2 separate regions of the Homo sapiens genome follow, and region 2 is linked to region 1. Evidence: fine-mapped expression QTL. A gene starts in region 1. The other region holds a variant in brackets. All regions are shown on one strand. Distances are between the middles of the regions. Region 1 holds the start of LINC01827 (long intergenic non-protein coding RNA 1827). Region 2 has its middle 11 kb from the start of LINC01825.

The links. PIP is the estimated chance that this variant, and not a neighbour inherited with it, causes the effect.
Region 2: its variant is the best candidate, but not a certain one, in a credible set for the expression of LINC01827 in prefrontal cortex (CommonMind, PIP 0.53).

What each region holds. Positions count from the first base shown.
Region 1 is chr2:195,573,391-195,576,211 of GRCh38, forward strand. It overlaps LINC01827 (long intergenic non-protein coding RNA 1827), which reads right to left and starts at 1,103. Exons shown (of 2, transcript NR_187191.1): 1 at 934-1,103.
Region 2 is chr2:195,520,549-195,523,369 of GRCh38, forward strand. No RefSeq gene overlaps it. Among named protein-coding and RNA genes, the nearest start is that of LINC01825, 11 kb to the right of the region's middle. RefSeq lists an enhancer at 2,401-2,821. The variant A/C (reference allele first, on the strand shown) is at 1,458.

The sequences.
Region 1 (2,821 bases):
ACAACTCCAATTCTCATCACTTAACTATGACTTTTGTGTCTCAGTGAAATTTTTTCAAACAATATCATCTAGTTGGCTTGGCCTAACCTATGGATCGACTCTCAGAGTAGGTCTCCCCACCCTGGTCCAATCATCATAACCAGGGAGTAGGGTCATATGATATAAACATAGATGACTAGGCCCATCTGTTCAGCAGGGGAACAGATTCTTTTAGAAGGGAATGTGGGCAGAAAGGCAATTATATACATCTCTAACCAGAAAAATCCCAGGGGTGGAAATGATAGGAAGAAATGGCACCAAATTTAAAGATAAAAGAAAAGCTGCCACTGTAATTCAAAATTAGACAATGTAACTGATCATAGACTTTTGCTATAATCGCTATTTTGGCCTTATAATCTCTGAAATTTACTTTACAGAACAGTGAAACACTTCTTTGAGGAGAAACATTATAGAAGAAAACAATCTTTGATCTAGAAACCTAAAAAGATATTTATGCTCATTATATTCCAGGTGCTGAAGAGTGTCAAAGCACAGCTAAATATTATGCCATTTGTGCAGACTCGGAATGAGTTTAAGCACTGAAAGAGCTACCAGAATACCCCAGCAGAACATCTCAAAACAAAGCATTATTTCTCTCTTAAGAAAATTACCAGGCTGGGCACGGTGGCTCACACCTGTAATCTCAGCACTTTGGGAGGACGAGGCAGGCGGATCTACCTGAGGTGAGGGGTTCGAGACCAGCCTGCCCAATGCGGTGAAACCCCGTCTCTACTAAAACTAAAAAAAATAGCTGGGTGTGGTGGCGGGCACCTGTAATCCCAGCTACTCAGGAGGCTGAAGCAGGGAGAATTGCAGTGAGCCGGATTGCACCACTGCACTCCAGCCTGGGCGACAGAGTGAGACTCCATCTCAAAAAAAAAAAGGGAAAATTACCTATTTGCACTTCTTGATTTCCAGGAAGGTGTTAGAGATCTTCATCCCATCCCCAGCCCAAGTCTAGACGTGTTCACCGGAAAGGAAGAAGTTTTTGAGTTCTCAGCAGTAGCTGTGGCTCTAAGGAAAGCAGTGTTGTATGGGTATTAGAGTAGTACAACCAAAGCTCTGCTGGAACAAAAGAGGAACACAGAAAGCTAGGAATGACAAGTGTTTTTCTTCCCTCTCATATGATTCAGTCAGGCTGTCTTTGACCTACATAGCCATCTGACTGGCCACTGTTTTCTTTTCTTTCTTTTCTTTTTTTAGAGATGGGATCTTGCTGTGTTGCCCAGGCTGGACTGAAACTCCTGGGTTCCAGTGATGCTCTCTCCTGAGCTTCCCGAGCAGCTGGGACCACAGGCATACACCACTGCACTGCACTGCACTTGATTAGGTATATTTTAAAATGTAAAATAATAGTGAAAGGATTCTCCCTAGTCCCCATAAACCTGGGAATGGATCGAGGTGAGGACACCAAAACTTTCCCCTGAGACATGGAAATTGCACTGAATGTTTCTTGATGGTTCTAATGCATTAAGAATTAAGAGCTCTTTGCCTAGATTACCCCCAAAATATTAAAAATAACAAAACAAAGTAGAACTAAGGAAAAATATAAGACACATAGAGAAAATGTTTTTCAAAAAATGTTATTTGACCTATGGCTAATTCTGATTTTAAAAGCAGTTAAACAAACGAAACACAACCTAGTGATGCTTACGACTGAAGAAACCATTGATACCTGAAAGAAGGGAAGACTTTAGATATAAAGGCAGAGTGGAATTTTTTTAACCAACATTTCATGCAGCAGCTCCACATGGCCTTCCCATGTCTCAATAGCTTTGATTTGTGGAAATAATGGTTATGCAATTTCCACATATTGTGCTCCAATCACAGCATGTAAGCAACAATAAAAAGAAAACAACTAAATGTACTTGAAGCTGGAGATTTTGATAAGGTTTTCTTTTCACTTCACAAAGTTTGTTAACTGGATATTTTTCTAAGGCAACTGAAATATTCCTGCTGAGTTTCAGACAGATATATGTAAAAGCAGCAAAGTGTCTGATTTTCTTAAATGTATCTATGGCAGCAACACTAGTTAATTTAGTTGTGAAAAAATAACCAAAAAGAAACTATCGGACTATAAGAATTCCACAGTTGGCAGACTGTTGGTATTTCTCTTTCTCTTTAAATATATATATAAATATATCTATAAATATATATAAATATCTATAAATATATCTATAAATATATATATTAAATATATATATGCCATCTGTTTACAAAAGATGAGAAATGTTGGAGAAAATTATTTCCCTTAGGGTATAATGTTATGGCCATTCAGAGAGAGGTCTCTGGTATTTTCAAGGAGAATTTGGTACAAGAACAAGACAGCATCAGGTCTGCACAGTCATTGGCTGCAAAAAACAAAGATGATTTCCTTTAGTCCCTGTTTTAGTTTTACTCTTTGAACTTCCAAGTTTATTTATTGTTATTATTTTTAATGTGGCACAGATTGTTTTAAGAATCAACTTGGTTCCCTTTTTTGAAGTCCTTTTTTTTTTTTAATTTGTTGAGACTGGTTTCTAAAGTGCTCCACCTCCACCACCTGTCATTAGATGGGGGGCTGCGGCTTGGAGAACACTCACAGTTCTGAGTTCAGCTGTGGACGGAATAATGAAGGGCAGCTGCAGAAGGAGGTAGAGCTGCAGATTCAGAGGTAGGTGGCAATACAGTATTTCAAAATAAAAACTACCAAGCTTCAGATCGGTGATAAATTGTCATGCACTAAGTGTACCTGGAGAAATAAAACTAATCTCTATCCATTTTAATTCTCTCAGAAGGACTT
Region 2 (2,821 bases), 53 kb before region 1:
GGGCGACACAGCAAGACTCTGACTCAAAAAAAAAAAAACAAAAAAAAAAGAGAACATAGTCAATCTAGGGAATTGAGAGTAGCCGCTTTCAAAAAAAAAAAAAAAAAACAGACAGCAAATATACAAATATACCAAGTATAGAAAGGGCATGAGACAGAGTAAGGTCAGGGCTTGGCTTCAGCTCCCCACCCCACCACCCCCGCTGGTGGAACATTCTTTCATACATTCCTGCTGATCACAAAATCCACATCACCACCTCGCTGACGTTACACATGCTAACCCTAAGGCTTTAGTCATATAAAGAAAATAGCCACTCTCCTGTGCTCTCATAATGTTTACCTATGCCTTTTACTTAAAGAATTCCAGGAACTGGCCTTAGGAAACCTAAATATCAAACCAAAGTGCAGAATGTCAAACCTTGGGAAAGAATGATTTGTAAGCAGCCTTTTTGCCGCTGGCCAGACCACCAGGTGGCCCATTACTCAAGATAACCATCGGGACCAGACATATGGACCTGCATACCCTAACCCCCACATGCTTCTCCCAGCCCAGCCTGCATACCTTACCCCTGTGTCAATTCCCCATGCTTTGTCTGATTAAAAAGTCTCTACTAGCTTTTTGGGGAGCCAGCTTGAGGATCCTCATACCTCACCTCCACTGTCTCCCTTGCCCTTGAGCACAAGCCCCAAAATAAAAGCCTTGTCTGGGAAATCTGCTTGGCCCTGTGTTAAGTTTCATTACATGGGGAGCTAAGAAGCATGTGACCAGCATCTATGGTCACATCCAACAACCCAACAGAAAGGTGGTTCAAGATGGTGAATGAATCAGAATTCCCAAGAGAACTGCCCGTGTACCCACTCCTTTCTGTAAAGAGATGAAGCTCCTGGATAAGTCAATGAATGAAGAGAGGATGAAAATAAGGCTGAGCGAAGTAAGATAGCACACTAAGATGAGAGACAACTTTCTACCAAACTTCATTGACATTGGGGAGAAATAAGAATGCGCTGGGGGACAGACAAGGTAGCGGTGAGGAAGGAGAGGAAAAAAGCAGCAATTTTATTCTCTTTATTTATAGAAGACAGACTCCCCATTCCGTCCTTGAGCCTTATCCAGACTCTCAAGCTGGGGCTCTCAAGTAGGAATAAAGTGAAAGCAGAGCACTGTCTCCTCCTTGTCACTGAGGATGACAGCTGATTACATGGGGAATACTTGCTAGAATTTGATTTGGAGCCAGTGATTTGACGCTTTCTAGAGGTGAATTTCCCGGCTTAAGATTGATGGCAATGCTTAAGAAGGAGTGCCACCTTATCACAAAACACATCTGAGAATTAGTATTCACCTCTCCACTCTAATAAGGAAACCTAAATATTTCACATTTTTAATGTATAATGGGTATATGCTAGTCTAGAAAAGAAAGTAGTTAAAAGTTATTGATACTGACACATATAACTCCATTT[A/C]AGTTATTCAGATATGTTTTTAAATGTCCTTAAATAATCATATGACAGACATCTTCAAACAATACGTGGGTAACTAATGACTGTGGTTTAAAATGAAATTACTATTCCAACTCCAGGATTCCATTGGCCTTTCCAGTTCCAAATGCAAATCTACTGTTCATAATCCTAGCAGTGATGACAGAATAGAAATGACTTTAAAATTAGTAAGTACGATATGAAAAATACATTAATGATATTTTATTAACATAAAAAGCAGTGGTCCATCATAAGCCTCTGAGCTCTGCCATCTTCAAGCCCACCTTCAGGCCCACCTTCAAGATCCTCACATCTGGTAAGAAGAAAATCAGCAAATATCTCCATTCCCCCACCACAGAGAACTAGGCATTGCATATTGCACATGTATACACAAAATTCCAGTTTGTTCTTAGATTTCGAAATTGTCAGGGACACTTTCATTTTATGCTTGTTTTTCATCTTGAACAAAAAGGAAACAGGGAAATAAAAGGATCACCTTTTTAAAAATATATTCCAAATTTTTATAGATGGTAAAACCAATAACAAAAATTTTAATTAATTTTAAGTTTTGTTATGTCTGAAGAAAGCTAAGTTCAATTTCTGAACCATCGTTTCTCTTCTATGCCAGTCATGCTCTCTGTCCTCTCATAATTACCCAAATATGTTTAATGATTTTGACAACCCAAAGGTTGACATCTTAATTGGCTAATGAAACAGGATGGAGCAGGACAGTCTGTTTCTTTTAACAATGAATGGCTGGGAAACACATCCCAGGAATCTGCCAATTACTGTTAAGCAGAACCAAGTTTTAGTCTTACTTGAGAGGCTGTCACAAACTGATCTGTTAGAAGGCAAGTTTTTTGCTTTAAGTCCAAGGGCGGGCATATTCTGTTTGCATAGTTTTCTTTATCATCAAAGAAAAACAACAACATAGTGCTTGAATCAACAGAGTTCTTTTAGGTCCATTTAAAGTAAAACTCACGGTGGAGGAGCCAAGATGGTCGAATAGGAACAGCTCCGGTCTACAGCTCCCAGCGTAAGCGACTCAGAAGACAGGTGATTTCTGCATTTCCATCTGAGGTACCGGGTTCATCTCACTAGGGAGTGCCAGACAGTGGGTGCAGGACAGTGGATGCAGCACACTGTGCACCAGCCAAAGCAGGGCGAGGCATTGCCTCCCTCGGGAAGCGCAAGGGGTCAGGGAGTTCCCTTTCCTGGTCAAGGAAAGGGGTGACAGACAGCACCTGGAAAATCGGGCCACTCCCACCCGAATACTGCGCTTTTCCAACAGGCTCAGGAAACTGCCTACCAGGAGATTATATCCCACACCTGGCTCAGAGTCCTACGCC